Regions from separate parts of the Homo sapiens genome. Here region 2 is linked to region 1. The links come from fine-mapping of genetic effects on gene expression. Tissue or cell type: thyroid. Region 1 holds a variant in brackets; the other region holds the start of a gene. All regions are shown on one strand. Distances are between the middles of the regions.

Evidence for each region. PIP is the estimated chance that this variant, and not a neighbour inherited with it, causes the effect.
Region 2: ABHD14B starts here. The variant in region 1 is fine-mapped to the expression of ABHD14B in thyroid (GTEx, PIP 0.97).

Annotation. Positions count from the first base shown.
Region 1 is chr3:52,008,115-52,016,114 of GRCh38, reverse strand. No RefSeq gene overlaps it. Among named protein-coding and RNA genes, the nearest start is that of RPL29, 16 kb to the right of the region's middle. RefSeq lists enhancers at 462-531, 207-1,086. The variant G/A (reference allele first, on the strand shown) is at 4,758.
Region 2 is chr3:51,969,911-51,977,910 of GRCh38, reverse strand. ABHD14B (abhydrolase domain containing 14B) reads left to right here and starts at 3,862. Exons shown (of 4, transcript NM_001146314.2): 1 at 3,862-3,946; 2 at 6,213-6,451; 3 at 7,727-7,968. The coding sequence starts at 6,241. ABHD14A-ACY1 (ABHD14A-ACY1 readthrough) reads right to left here and starts at 2,847. Exons shown (of 17, transcript NM_001316331.2): 1 at 2,707-2,847; 2 at 1-40. ABHD14A (abhydrolase domain containing 14A) reads right to left here and starts at 2,847. Exons shown (of 5, transcript NM_015407.5): 1 at 2,707-2,847; 2 at 1-40. The coding sequence starts at 2,775. RefSeq lists silencers at 1,644-1,938, 2,544-2,923, 3,754-3,923, 4,144-4,293 and enhancers at 3,524-3,703, 3,737-4,673.

The DNA.
Region 1 (8,000 bases):
AAAAATCAGACAATTAGGCTTCCTGCCACCTGCCTGCCCACGTCCTGCTGGCCCCTAATTACTGAGCGGCTGCTGAACAGGCTGGGAGTGACCTGGATTTGGACCGAGGACCAGCCCCTGCCATCTCCCCCATCCCCCACCCCCAGCCTCCATCGCATGCTGCAGGGACAGACAGCTGGGGTGCAGTGTGTCTTTCAGGGATCTTCCCCTGGAGCCCCCAGCCCCCTTTCCTAGCCCTGTTCCCTTCCTGCTCACGATCTCTCCTGCAGAAGGTAGCTCTGGAAGAGAAGAGATGGATGCCCGAAGCCCTGGTAGCCCTCAGGGAAGATGGCTGCTAGGGGAGTGGCAAAAACCCAGAAAGCGGCATCCAAGAGGTCTTGCTGAGGTGAAGTGGCTGCTTCCCCTCCTGCTCAGCTCTTCCAGGGGAAAGATAGCAGACTGTGTTCAGGAGTAGGAATGGCAGATAAGAGGAAGTTAAAAGCTCTCCTGAGAGCCCCGGCACAGCCCAGGGCATGCTGGGGGCCCAGGCCTGCCCTTGGGGAGTCCCCTCACTCAGAAGAGGAGATGGAGCTGGACAAAGCAAGACAAGCGTGCAGGGCCTGGCCTGACTAAAGTGGTCCTGGAAGGCTTCCCAGAGGCAGTGACCTTTAGGCTCCGTCAGGTGAGGTGTACACTGTCCCAGGCAGAAGGAACAGGGCGTGTGAGGGTCTGAAAGTGGATCCTCCCCTACAGAAAGCACAGACAGAGAGGCAGGGCACTCCCTCTGCAAGCACCGACCATGCACCAGGCAACTGGCTGGAAGCAGCTAGATGGGCCCTACCCCAGGAGGGAGTGGGGTGGACACACTGGAGTCTAGAGGGAGGCTGATGTGGGATGTGGGGCCTCCCGTCATCAAGGTCCAGCATGCAAGAAGTACCTTGGCCACCTCCTTCCTGACCTGTTTCCTTTCTTGGTTCTGTGCTAGGATTGAAAGTCCCTTTCTTTGTTTCCCTTGGGGACTTGGAGGCCCAAAGGTACCTGCTCAGAAGGGTACTCCCAGCCCAAAGAGGTCAAGAGACTAAGCTGAGTTCACCCACCCAGTTGGCTGGAGTGGGCCTCAGAGAGGTGTCCACTGTAGTCTTCCAGTGGGGTTCTGGCCCAGCCAGAGATGAAGCCACCACAACGAGGTAGGTTAGAGACAGGAAGGAGATGGGACTGCACTGGGAGGCTGGACACCAGCATTTGAGAGCTGCCACAAAAAAGTCACGCTACCCCCTCGTCCCTAAGCCTAACTCCAGGGTGGCCCCCTAGAGGCCTTGCTGCCAACCCACGCCTTCCCAAAGCCATCCCTGATAAGAAGGCCAGGAAGGCTTTGCGGACTTCCTTTAATGCACGCACTGGATCCTGGGGCTTGGTGTAGCCTGAGGCCAGAAGCTGGGAGCAGAGTCTGAGGGCAGAGCAGGTGAAGTCCCTTCTCTCCACCCCTTTCTGCTGGTCTGGGCTTCCTGACCATCGCGGGGGCAACTGCTCTGTGCTCTGCAACCTAAATTGCAATGGCTGCCGAGGTATTTCCTGTCAAACACACTACTTTGCTGTAGTGTGGCGACTACCGCAGGGATATGGGGCCTCCAGGCTTCTACCAACAGCCCCCAGAGTCAGAGTCCTGTGACACATGCACACGTGTGCACCCAACCTGGAGCCCCAACTGCCTGGTCGTCTCTGGGTCCACCTCTGCTGCATCATCATTGTCCACTAGGGCAAGCTGTACCCTGCACAACACCAGGATCCTGCTTGCACACACCCTGCTCTCATCTCTCTGTTCTTATGAGATTGTTCCCATGCTTACACCTTTGCAACCTCTGAGGGCAGGTTTTCACCTGCTCATGGCACCTGACACACAGAGGATGCCTTATAAATGTGTGTTGTATGGATTGTGGGTGGTTGATGCATGGATGGACAGATGAGTGACTTATCTAAGCTCTCCTAGCCTGCTCTAGTGGATGTAGGACTTGAACCCGGGTCCTGGGCTTCCACATGCTGCCTGTCTTATTTGGCATCCAGCCTAATCCCAGCTGGATCCCCTTCAGGATATAAGGGTGTCTGTACAATGAACACCCCTAGTCTGTGCCCCCACCTCTGGCTGCCACTGAACAGCCTGGGTCACCAGGTCCCAGGTGGGCCTGAGTCTCTGTCCCTGCTGCCTGGCCAGACTTAGGAAGGTGTCACACATCTGAAGGAAGATGACATTGCCTGGGCCAACAGAATTCTCCCATTTGATCTCACCTCCAGGATCCAGAGCTGGGCAGAGAATGCAGCTAGGAGGAGAGAGTGAAGAGAGGGATGAAAAACAGGGGGTCCCTTACATCTCACCAGGCTCCCAAGCGAGTCAGGGAAAAATGAGCATCCAGAGCTTCAGCCCTTTGGGTGGGAGATCCTTAGAGGCCAACTTCTGAGTAGAAAACCTGTTCCAGGGGAGGATGGGGTGGGGCAGACCGAGCCCAGCAAGCACAGTGGTCTCAGAGCCAACAGGCAGCTGCCCCAGCTCAGCTCTGCACCAGCACCCAGTCAGCCAGACCCACATACAAGCTGCCTCCATGGATCATGGGCTTGGGCAGCCTGCTTCCTCCTGAAGCCTCAACTTTTGTATTCAGAATCAGGTGAGCAATGAGATTAAACATCAAAAGATCTCTGGGCACAGTACCCAGGCATTCCACAAATGGTGGGCTAGTGTGTATTGCTCCATTTTCCAGAAGGGGAAACTGAGTCCTGGAGAGATAAAGTGACATCCTGAATGCAATAGCAGAGCCAAGAGTGGCACACCAAGCTCCTGGCATATGGTGTGGCATTCTGACCACACTGCCTCCTGGCTTGGGGTGGGCCAGACCCAGCAGGTTCATGCATCTGGGATTTGTGGTCTCAGTTGGGTGTGTAGAGAAGAGCCACTCACATCTAGTCGAGGTTGGCTAAGCAGGCCTCCAACGTGGTACCTGGGTGACCCTCATGGCGGCTGACCCTGTAAGAAGCTTGGGAACACCTTACCCCAATCTGCCCTAGGCAATCGGGTCTGAAATTCTACCCTGAGCCCTTTTTGCTGTCCCTTCTCAATGTTGACCTTTGCCCTCCCTTCCCCCACACCCAACCTGGGGCCAGCTGCCCAGGAAGCTATCCTGGGCTACACACTTGGCCTGAAACATCTGCTGGACATGGCCAGACACATATCCTTCCTGTGACAAGATTGGAACAGGATGGGCAACACCGTCTTTGCTCTTTCTCAGGGCCATGCCAAAGTACAGGCTGTTCCTGGAAGATCGTGACATGAGCCGGGCTGGGGAGGACTGTGCCCATGGCCCTACAAGATACTGGGCAACTCTCTTGTCCGTGGATCGCAGGCTCCCCTGTGATCAGGCTCCACGGGGCTATAGCTCAGCATGTCAAAGCTAACAACTCACGGACAGGAAACTGGTCCTTTCCGGTGGGGAGGAGCTAAGTGCCAACAACTCCATCCCCCAATATAATAATCTAGCACCTTCCAGGCGGTGATGGTGGCAGGGTTCCTGTATGCCAGGATCTGTGCAGGCTGGTCTTCAACATGAGTTCTCTTGAGCTTGACTACAGCCCTGAAAGGAGGAGCTATCATTATTCCCATTCTGTAGATGAGGGTGTGAAGACCCAGACAGGGGCAGTCCTGAGATCACACAGCCCAAGAACTAGGCTCAGCCTAACCCTTGAGCAGGTGCTCCTCACTGGTACCAAGAATGTGGGTGTCATGGCCATTCACTGCTAACTGATGGGCTGGTGGCTTAGGTGGCAGCAAGAGTGAACCTCAGAGCCTCAGGGCTGTGCAGAAAGTATGGCAGGCATGAGGCCTAAGCTGAGGAGCAGGAGGCAGAAGTCACAACAGGAGGACAAATCCTGGTTGGATCAGGCCTCTTGCCCTACTCCTTGGACAAGGCAAAGAGTTCCAGGTACACGGGGGTGAGGAAAGAGGTAGCAAGGGACAGTGGCCTCAAGGGGCAGCCTTCAGGTGAGGAGCTGGCTGCAGAGACTCACAATTGTTGGCTTTTTTTATTCAAAATTTTAAAAAATTCACCGGGCATGGTGGCTCACACCTGTAATCCCAGCACTTTGGGAGACTGACGTGGGTGGATCACCTGAGGTCAGGAGTTCGAGACCAGCCTGGCCAAAATGGTGAAACCCGGTCTGTATTAAAAATACAAAAATTAGCTGGGCGTGGTGGTGGGCACCTATAATCCCAGCTACTCAGGAGGCTGAGGCAGGAGAATTGTTTGAACCTGGGAGGCAGAGGTTGCAGTGAGCCAAGATCGCACCATTGCACTCCAGCCTGGGCGACGAGAGCGAAACTCCGTCTCAAAAAAAAAAAAAAAAAAAAAAATTAAAAGAAAAAAACATCGGATGGGTTTGGTGGCTCACGCCTATAATCCCAGAACTTTGGGAGGCCGAGGTAGGTGGATCACCTGAGGTCAGGAGTTCGAGAGCAGCTTGGCCAACATGGTGAAACCCTGTCTCTACTAAAAATACAAAAATTAGCTGGGAATGGTGGCAGGTGCCTATAATCCCACCTACTCAGGAGGCTGAGGCAGGAGAATCCCTTGAACCCAGGAGGCAGAGATTGCAGTGACTGGAGATCGCACCATTGTACTCCCGCCTGGGTGACAAGTGCAAAACTCCGTCTCAAAAAAAAAAAAAAAAAAAAAAGAAAAGAAAAAAGAAAAAGAAAAAGGAAAAAAAATCAATGGGACTCACAATTGTTTTACAGC[G/A]TTCCCTGCCTTGTTCCTGCCACCAAAAGCCATCAAGCCTCCCATAATCCTTCCCAAGTGCTTCATATTCTACCATCATAGCATTGAGGATCCTGGATTGAAATCCTGTATCTATTGCTCCCAATGGGTGGGGAGCTTCAGTAATTTGCCCACTTTTTTTTCACAGCTTGCCAGGTGACACAAGGGGGACGGTCAATGAATATTTCTTAAATGGGTGGTTAGTTAGTTAAATGGACAGATGGATTGTTGGATGGATGGTTAGATGGATGGTTGGATGGACAGTTGGATGGATGGTTGGATGGATGGTTGGATAGGTGGTTGGGTGGATGGTTGCATGAAGGGCTGGCTCGTTAGTTGCTGTGTTAGTTTCCTATTGCTGCTGTAACAGATTATCACAAGTTTCATGGTTTAAAACAACACAAATGTATTATCTTACAATTCTGGAGGTCAGAAACCTGAAAGGGGTCTCACTGGACTAAAATCAAGGTGTCAGCAGGGTTGCATTCTGGAGGCTCTAATGGAGCATCCATGTCCTCCTTGCCTTTCCAGCTTCTGGGGGCTGTCATTTTTTCTTGTCTTGTGGCCCCTTCCTCCATCTTCAAAGCCAGCAATGTAAGACCAAGTCCTTCTCATGCTGCCATCTCTGTGGTTCCTCTTCTCCTCTTAAGAACCCATATGATTACCTTGGGCCCACCCAGATAATCCAAGATAATCCCCCTATTTTAACACCAGATGATTAGCAACCTTAATTCCATCTGCAACCTTAATCCCCCTTTGCCATGTTAAGTAACATAATCACAGGCTCTAGGATTAGGATGGAGACATCTTTTGGGGGACATTAGTCTGCCTATTACAGATAGATAGATGGTTGGTTGGATGGATGGGTAGATGTATGGATAGATGTATGTATGTATGTATGGATGGATGGATGGATGGATGGACAGATGGATAGAGGGTTGGATGGATGGGGAGATGTATGGATAGATGTATGTATGTATGTATGGATGGATGGATGGATGGATGGATGGATGGATAGAGGGTTGGATGGATGGGGAGATGGTTGGATGGATGGATGGCAGACTAAGCCCTCCTGACCCCCCTGCCTTTGATGGGAATGAACAGCTTGAGACAGGTCATACGTGTTACCTCCCATCTCCTGTACTCTCTATCACTATTAATATAGTGCAAGAGCACTGAACCAGGAGAGGGATGTTTGCCAGGAGTGTCGCCCAGTCGCCCAGGCTGGAGTGCAGTGGCGGGATTTCGGCTCACTGAAACCTCTGCCTCCTGGGTTCAAGCGATTCTCCTGCCTTGGCCTCCCGAGTAGCTGGGATTACAGGCTTGCATCACCACACCCAGCTAAATTTTTTGTATTTTTAGTAGAGACGGGGTTTCACCATGTTGGCCAGGCTCGAACTTCTGACCTCAACTGATCTGCCAACCCAAGCCTCCCAAAGTGCTGGGATTACAGGCGTGAGCTACCGTGCCTGGCCACCCTGCACGTCTTTCTCTTGCATTTTATCTTTCCAAATGACTTTGGCGCTCCCAGAGGTAGGGAACTCTGTCCCACTTTCCAGCCTAGCACTCCAAACGATATTTGACTCTTACCTGCTGGTAAATGAGAGAATAACTTTGTGGGACATTCAGTCGGGCTGGGAGATTGAGAGGGGGGAAGGGATCTGGGATTCGCACCCCCTCTAGCTGAGTGTGATGGGATATCCATGAGGGGTAGCAGGGAGAGGAGCTCAGCCCCCAGAACCCACCCACTTGGGTGGGATGTTTTACTGGGGAGAAGAAGGTCAATTAAGTTTGTGTTTATTCCTTGTTTAATCTATTTAAATACCAAATACTATATATACACACACACACATATACTATATATATGGTATATATACACATTATAGTATATATGTGTATACACATATACACACTATAGTATATATATGTGTGTGCAGATGTATATTGTATTTATTTATTTATTTTTATTTTATTTATTTTTTTGAGACGGAGACTCGCTTTCGCCCAGGCTGGATTGCAGTGGCGCGATCTTGGCTCACTGCAAGCTCTGCCTCCCGGGTTCACGCCATTCTCCTGCCTCAGTCTCCTGAGTAGCTGGGACTACAGGTGCCCGCCACCACACCCCGCTAATTTTTTTTTTTATTTTAGTAGACATGGGGTTTCACCCTGTTAGCCAGGATGGTCTTGATCTCCTGACCTCGGGATCCGCCCTCCTAGGCCTCCCAAAGTGCTGGGATTACAGGTGTGAGCCACAGCGCCCGGCCTATATATAGCATTTAAACAGATTATATATATAGTATTTAAACAGATAAAACAGTAGTATTTTTTATATATATATATATATATATATATATATATATTTTTTTTTTTTTTTTTTTTTGAGACCGAGTCTTACCTGTTGCCCAGGCTGGAGGGCAGTGCTGCGATCTTGGCTCACTGTGACTTCCACCTCCCAGGTTCAAGTGATTCTTGTGCCTCCCAAGTAGCTGGGACTACAGACATGTAGTACCACCACACCTGGCTAATTTTTGTATTTTTAGTAGAGATTGGGTTTTGCCATGTTGCCTAGGCTGGTCTTGAACTCCTAGGCTCAAACAATCCACCCAACTCAGGCTCCCAAAGTGTTGAGATTACAGGCGTGAGCCACTGCTCCTGGACTAAATACAGTATTTGATTAATATAAAAGAATATCAGGCCAGGCACGGTGGCTCATGAGTGTAATCCCAGCACTTTGGGAGGCCAAGGCGGGTGGATCACGAGGTCAGGAGATCGAGACCATCCTGGCTAACATGGTGAAACCCTGTCTCTACTAAAAATACAAAAAATTAGCAGGGTGTGGTGGCGGGCGCCTGTAGTCCCAGCTACTCGGGAGGCTGAGGCAGGAGAATGGCATGAACCCGGGAGGCGGAGCTATCAGTGAGCCGAGATCGCGCCACTGCACTCCAGCCTGGGTGACAGAGCGAGATTCCATCTCAAAAAATAAATAAATAAATAATAAAATAAAATAAAATAAAATAATATCTGTGGCTGGACGTGGTGGCTCACACCTGTAATCCCAGCACTTTGGGAGGCCGAGGCAGGTGGATCACCTGAGGTCAGGAGTTCAGGACCAGCCTGGCCAACATGGTGAAACCCTGTCTCTAGAAAAATACAAAAATTAGCCAGGTATGCTGGTGCATGCCTGTAATCCCAGCTATGCGGGAGGCTGAAGCAGGAGAATCACTT
Region 2 (8,000 bases), 38 kb after region 1:
GGGCTACCTGGGACCGGCTCATGGAGGTCTGTACCACAGTCTGGAGAGGGAGAGGAGAGGGAAAAGAGGCTGGAACTGAGTCCCTACAAGGACCCTGGATCCCATCCCAAAACCCCACCCAGAGTCCCCAGCAGAGGAAGAGCTCCAGCCCTTGCCCTTTCCCTTGCTCTGGGCAAAGTTCTGGGAGTTCACACTCAACTACTCCACATGCCAGGGCAAGCGCTCAGATACCTCACAGTGTGAGGAGGTGCATCTGAGGTGTTCTCTGGCACACAGCATGCTCAGTGACCGCCACCATCATGGCATCAGCTGAAACCACTTCCGTTCATCAAGCGCTTATGACAGCAGGCCCTGAGTGTGGCACTTCACATACAAGGTTCTTTTCCACCAAGAATGCTGGGGAGCAGACGTGATTATAGGTCTCTTATAGGTGAGGAAATGGAGGCTCAGAGAGGTACATTCTCTTGCCCAAAGTGCCAAGTAGCAAGTGGGGGAATTGGGGTTTGAACCTAGGAATGGGCTTCTAACTACCAGGCCACACTCGGTTTGCCAAGGAGGAACCCGTGGAGCTGGGAGATGATGGATGAACTGGAGCCTTGCAGGTGGAAAAAGTGATGAGGGCTATCAAAGGAGAAAGACTGCGCGCAAAGGGACCTCCCACTTAAGGGCATGTTTGGAAATGGTTCTTTTAATCTCACTGCATTTAATACTGCTAAAATCAGAACGCGTTTTACAATCGCATTATAACTAAGGTCTAACCCAGCTGTTATGAAGAGGCTCACAGAGAATGTCTTGTAATAGAGGAAAATGCTGAGGAGTGAGGGGCTGCAGGGCCAGGGAGGAGCATGGTACACCCAGAAATGAAAAGCACAGTGTAGAGGTTGGAGAGATGAATGCCGCCTGCTACTCCCCATCCTACACACAGACAGCTTCTGGCCAAATGACTGCTTCGTGGACTCCTCCAATCTGGGGTCTCTGCCACCCCAGAGGACAGCCCTTAGGACCCAGGACTCAAACAGGACAGGCCTTTGAGACTGCCACTTCCTGACCTTGTGTCTTCAGTTTGTCAGTAAAATGGGATAACCTCGTGGCTGCCCTCCTAAGCTTCCTGTGAGATTTAGATAATACCGTGGACTGGATCAGGGCTGTCCCTGTCATTTCTTGGGCCTAGGATGAGCACGCCTGCTTCCTTCCAGGAGTCCAGCAAACACATCTTTATTTTATTTTTATTTTTCTGAGACGGAGTCTTGCTCTGTCGCCCAGGCTAGAGTGCAGTGGTACAATCTCGGCTCACTGCAACCTCCGCCTCCCGGGTTCAAGCAATTCTCCTGCCTCAGCCTCCCGAATAGTGGGATTACAGGCTCCCGCCACCGCGCCCGGCTAATTTTTGTATTTTTTAGTAGAGACAGGGTTTCACCATGTTGGCCAGGCTGTTCTCGAACTGCTGGCCTCGTGTTTCACCCGCCTCGGCCTCCCAGAGTGCTGGGATTACAGGCGTGAGCCACCGCGCCGGGCCAGCACATCTTTATTGAGTGCCAACTGGGCGCCTGCCCGAACTAGGAGCCGGGGGCCCGTCTTGGTTCCTATTCATCCCTCCGGGATGTTTTGGGGATGTTTCCTGAGCCCGCATCCCCAGGCTTCGGGGTCGGGGGGCTTGTGAGCCACAGCAGCAGCCGCCTTTCTGCTGTTTCTGGAAAACCAGGACCTAGTGGAGGAAGAGCGCGTTCCTCTTTTCTTCCAGACCACTAACAACCTCAGACGCGCGTCTCTAACTGGGCGTTAGTCCAGATTCCCACCGGGCGCGAGGGACATTTCCTTGCTGCCCACTCGGGGCGCCCCCGCGCTTCTCCAAAGCGGGAAGGGCGGGGCTTAGGCTGTTGCCTTGGCAACCGAGGGTGCCCGCAGTACTAGGAAATTGTAGTGGACCTGCAGCTGGCCGCCTGCGGGGGTTTGCGGGGGGCAGGGTAAACTGTGCCCGGGTTAGGTCATTGGAATATGCGTTGACAATGACACACAGGTGCACACACGCACAAATACGAGTCTTGCCCCCACACGCTTTTCTTTTGCACAAGCTATTCCCTGCATGTACATGCAGCCTCTTTGCACACACACTGGCCCGTGTGCAATTAATCCCTTGTAATGGTACCCTCTACATCACGCACACAGTCAGGCATCAGGAAGCCAGAGAGACTGATGGAGATGCACACTTTGAAAACCACAGGCTGATCCTCAGAAATACTCAAGCACGGTCATACACACAACCGTAAGACTACACATTCACACAAGAAAGGCACATGCACAGGAAAGCAGACACGCACACACACACAAACCCCCAGAAATGCACACACGCAGACAGGTAGACACATACCCTTAAAATCACACGCACACAGAAATACACTCGGAAGACATAACGCTGACACAAGCAGGCAGACATCAACGAACACACCCCCCCCCCAAAAATATAAGCGCGCAGAAACCCACTGACGGACACCATGCAGACACACAAGCGTACACATACACCCAGACCCCCAAGAACATATGCAGACCCTGCGCGCGCACACACATTACACGCGCGCACATGCACATTCGCGGCCCCAGCGTCTGCTTCTTCCGCGGGACTCTGCCCCGGGGCGCCGGGGCAAGGGGCGGGGTAAAGACGGCCCTCCCCTGGGCCACCGGCCGGCCTCCCTCCCCCGGGAGACTCACCGGGCCCAACGGGATGAGCGGGCGGGCCCCGCCCAGGCGGAACCAGCAGCCGCACAGCGCCCCGACCATGGCTGCCTCCGCAGCTCCGCGGGCCGCTCCGGCTCTAGGCGGCCAGGAGCGCGGCCATCTCGGCGCGCCTGCGCACTCCGCAGCCGCGGGCCTGCAACCCAGTTACCGAGTCGTCTGCGTGGAGGGGGTGCTGGGGGCAGAGCCCCAGCGCTCTCTGGCCCGCTCCCCGCCCAGATTTTCGGAACTGTTTTTGGCTTGAGAGCCGGCGGAGAGCCATGTGGCTTCTTCTCAGTGGAACATCTCCACCCTGGCTCAGTTCTCTGGCCTGTATAATGGAGTTAAGGATAAAACCCACCGCACAGGGTTGTCCTAGGTTCTTAAGGACGGGTCAAGCCTCAGAACAGTGTCCGGAGCAGAGGCCTCGTTGTGTAAATGCCAGATATTGTTATGCAGCAGCTCCAGGTCTTGGCCGACCCACTTTCCTGACTCCTACCCACTCCTCCCCACCCCCTCCCCGACGCACACCCACGGTCAGAGCCTGGGCTGGCCCTGGGCTCGTTCACGTCTACTCATGGCGCCTGCCCTGGTTGGCGATGTGTTACCAACGTCTGGCCTGTCCCAGCCCAAGGCTCCGCGTGGCGACCAGGCCCAGCACTGGGAGGCTGTGCAGAGCGTGGCGTTTACTGCTTATTGCTACTCTGCAGAGGTTGGCAACATCTGACCCGCTCTACTGGCAGGAAACAGGCTCGGGGGCATTGGGAAAACGATCAAGGCCACTTGGCTGGACACTGGCGGAGCCTCGCACTCAAACCTGTCGGGCCTCAACTCCGTGCCAGGCCAACAAGTTGCCCTGGGCAGTTCAAGCTGGGGATAAGGGGGATGGGGAGCAGGAAGACAGCAGCAAGGATGCGATCCCGAAGGAACTTTCCTCCTCAGACTGCTCCATGTCCATGTGGGGCAGGTCGCTGAAGAGTTCGAAACCGTGCTCAGCACCGCGTTTGGGGCATGTGAGACCGAGAGGCTTTGGGAAACTGACGCCGCTGTGAGAACGAGTTTAGCGGAGTCTATGGACGCTGCGAGCTTGTGGCCACAAGAGGGCGCCCCGGAGCACGGCCCAGTCCCCGCCCCCGCTGGATGGGGCCCGGCCTCTTCCCAGCGTTCCTCCTCCGGCCCCAGGTCACCGCCAGCACGCGCCTGCTTCCCGTCTGCGCGAGTCCACGCAGCTCCCCAGGTACCCGCCCTGCACTCCTGACCCTTTCTTCTCTCCAGTCAAAATCCAACCCCACCTACCCCAAGTCTTCCTTTCTCGGATCCCTGGGTCCCCTCCTTGGGAGTTGCCACCATTCCCTCCCGGTGCTCCCTTCCAGAGCTAGCGAGCCAGAACCGTAGTCCGCGGAAGCAACCTGACCGCGAGGTCAACGCGTTGGGCCCCAGGTGGCAGCGCGTTGAGCACCCCGCATCCCCGGCGGGTCGCCTTTCCCACTGGGCGCTTCGGTTTCCGCCTCTAGAAAATGGGCTTTCCGGTGTGGAAGCGCGCCTGTGGTTCCAGCTACTGGGGGTGAGCCGGGAGGATCACTTGAGCCCAGGAAGGTCAAGGCTGCAGTGATCCATGATTGCGCCACTGCACTCCAGCCTGGACGACAGAGCGAGACATCTTCTCTTAAAAAAAAAAAAAAGAAAAAAAAAAAAACCGAAGAAAATGGGCTTTTAGTTCCGGCGCGGTGGCTCACGCCTGTAATCCCAGCACTTTGGGAGGCCAAGGTGGGTGGATCACTTGAGGTCAGGAGTTCCGGACCAGCTCGGCCAACATGATGAAACCCCGTTTCTACTAAAAATATAAAAATTAGGCCGTGCACGGTGGCTCACGCCTGTAATCCCAGCACTTTGGGAGGCTGAGGCGGGCGGATCACGAGGTCAGGAGATCGAGACCACCCTGGCTAACACGGCGAAACCCCGTCTGTACTAAAAAAAAAAAAACAAAAAATTAGCCGGGCGTGGTGGCGCGTGCCTGTAGTCCCAGCTACCCGGGAGGCTGAGGCAGGAGAATGGCGTGAACCCGGGAGGCGGAGCTTGCAGTGAGCGGAGATGTGCCATTGCACTCCAGCCTGGGCGACAGAGCGAGACTCCGTCTCAAAAAAAAAAAAAAAAAAATTAGCCAGGCATGGTGACGCACGCCTGTAAACCCAGCTACTCGGGAGGCTGAGGCAGGAGAATCGCTTGAACCCAGGAGGTGGAGGTTGCAGTGAGCCGAGATCATGCCACTGCACTCCATTCTGGGCAACAAGAGTGAAACTCTGTCCCAAAATAAATAAATAGAATAAAATAAAATAAAATGGGCTTTTTACCCCAATTTGGGCTCCCTCTGGCCTGCATTGACAACTCATGACCTGTAACTTACCGTTGATTGAGCACTGAGCCCTTACTACGTGCTAGGCATGGTACATGCATGGCCTTATTTAATCCTATCAACCACCTATGAGCTAGTACTATTGAATTATCCCCATTTATAGAAAAGGATAATAACGATGAGAATAAGAACAGTAATTGTAATGGAGCCCCACCACATATTGAGGTTTTACAGCAGGCACCCCCACTGATAATTTTTCTGTTTTTTGTTTTTTTGAGATGGAGTTTTTCTCTTGTTGCCCAGTCTGGAGTGCAATGGCGCGTTCTCGGCTCACTGCAACCTCTGCCTCCTGGGTGCAAGCAATTCTACTGCCTTAGCTTCCCAAGTAGTTGGGATTACAGGCGTGTGCCACCACAGCTGGCTAATTTTGTATTTTGAGTAGAGATGGGGTTTCTTTCTGCATGTTCATCAGGGAGATCTCGAACTCCTGACCTCAGGTGATCCGCCCGCCTCGGCCTCCCAAAATGCTGGGATTACAGGCGTGTGCCACCGCGCCTGGCCTAATGAGAGTTACATGTGACCATCAGCTGGCTCTTTTTTTTTTTTTTTTTTGTGACCGAGTCTCACTCTGTCACCCAGGCTGGAGCACAGTGGCACGATCTCGGCTCACTGCAACCTCTGCCTCCCGGGTTCAAGCGATTCTCCTGCTGAGTAGCTGGGACTACAGGCACGTGCCACCACACCTGGCTAATTTTTTTTTCTTTTTAGTAGAGACGGGGTTCCACCATGTTGGCCAGGGTGGTCTTGAACTCCTGACCTCAGGTGATCCACCCGCCTCGGCCTCCCAAAGTGCTGGGATTACAGGCGTGAGCCACCATGCCTGGCCGATAATTTTTCTTAAACTTTTAATTAAATTGCTAATTCTTGAAGTTGGCTTTATTGTTCCCATATTTCAGATCAAGAAGCTGAGGCCCCAGGTTACACACTAAAGTAAATGGCAGAGGCAGAAATAACACCTATGTCCTCCTGACCCCAAGGCATGTTCTTAAAGTTCTGGAAACCTCCTGGAGGCTTCCTTGCTGCTCCTCTGGGACTGCCACCCTGGGCAGGGTGTTCTGTGGCCCCTCATCATCGTGGTTTTGAACCACAGGCCCTTCACCAGCACAGCAGCAGCAGGCATGGCAGCAAGCGTGGAGCAGCGCGAGGGCACCATCCAGGTGCAGGGCCAGGCCCTCTTCTTCCGAGAGGCCCTGCCCGGCAGTGGGCAGGCTCGCTTCTCTGTACTGCTGCTGCATGGTATTCGCTTCTCCTCCGAGACCTGGCAGAACCTGGGTACACTGCACAGGCTGGCCCAGGCTGGCTACCGGGCTGTGGCCATTGACCTGCCAGGTACTTAAGGGGCAGGCTTCTGGGCAGGGTTTGGGGAGGTCTCATTAGGGACAGGGCCAGGTTCCTATAACATGTAGCCCCTCCCCACTCCAGGGGTGGGGGCGGTGGGATCTGGAGGACCCAGCCAGGCTGGGCCCTGAACTTGACAGCGTTTGGTCAAGCACACTGCAAGGGCCTCTGAGCAGTCTTGATCCAGATGTGGTCCTCACCGCCCAGCTGCTCCTCACTGTTACCTGGGCATTGTCTCAGTGTCTCTGAGCCTCTGTTTCCTCATCTGCAATGGGAGATAACCACACTCATGTTTTGGGCTCGCTCTAATGAGAATGGAATGAGATAATCCATGTGAGTATGTGGCTAGTACCTGACACAGAGTAATCGGTGCTCAGCCAATTGGAAGTAAAGTATTTTGACTGAATAATAACCATAGGCTTTTGGAAGCCCTAAGGAGTGAGACCTGAGTCTTCTGGGGGACAAGGCAGGGCCTGGTGGGTGGCCAGGCCCCCACTTGTGATCCCACATGCAAAGCCCTGAGCTGGGTTCTAGGGTAGATGGGATCAGTGCCCAGACTGCCTGTCATAACCCAGATGGCTGGGTCCCAACCCTCGGTGCCAGGTGTGAAAGGAGCAGCATGGCTGGCCCCACCCCCTCAGGCCAGGGATGGTATGGTTTCAGGGCTCAAGGGCGAGCCTCCTGCCCAGGCAGGATTGATTCCAATGGTGGGTTGGCTTGAGCTTCAGGGTGAAGGTCTGGAGCTAATCTTGTTGGTGAAGCCTGAATGACTGGAGGAGGAGCTGCAGAACCGACCCCTCAGCTGCTGTCCTTCAGGAGCCTCTCTTGTCCCAATCCAGGGCCAGGTGCCTTTCACACAGTTAATTTTCACAACAATCTTAAATGGCAGATACTTTTGTTATCCCCCTTTAACAGATGGGGAAACTGAGCAGCTGAGAGAGGACTGAGGGGGACCTACCCAAGGTCACATAGACAATAAATGCAGAATTGGGTTCTGGACCCAGACTTCTTGGGCTTCAGAGCCTGATTCTCTCCAGGACACTTACTGCTGGGGAGACAGGCACAGACGTGGAGAGAAGTGCCTCATGCTTGGCACGATAAGATAGAATGAGGCTACTGTAGGAATAAACGTGGGCACACTGGGTGTTACAGGAACCTGGCCACAGAGAAACTGACCTAGGAGGGCTTCCTGGAGAGAGCAACCATCTCCCTTGTTTTGCCATTCACTGCCCTTGTCTTGTCTCTTTCACACCTGAATCCCTGCAGGTCTGGGGCACTCCAAGGAAGCAGCAGCCCCTGCCCCTATTGGGGAGCTGGCCCCTGGCAGCTTCCTGGCGGCTGTGGTGGATGCCTTGGAGCTGGGCCCCCCGGTTGTGATCAGTCCATCACTGAGTGGCATGTACTCCCTGCCCTTCCTCACGGCCCCTGGCTCCCAGCTCCCGGGCTTTGTGCCAGTGGCCCCCATCTGCACTGACAAAATCAATGCTGCCAACTATGCCAGTGTGAAGGTACCCTTGTGTGGGAAGCTGAGGTGCCCCTG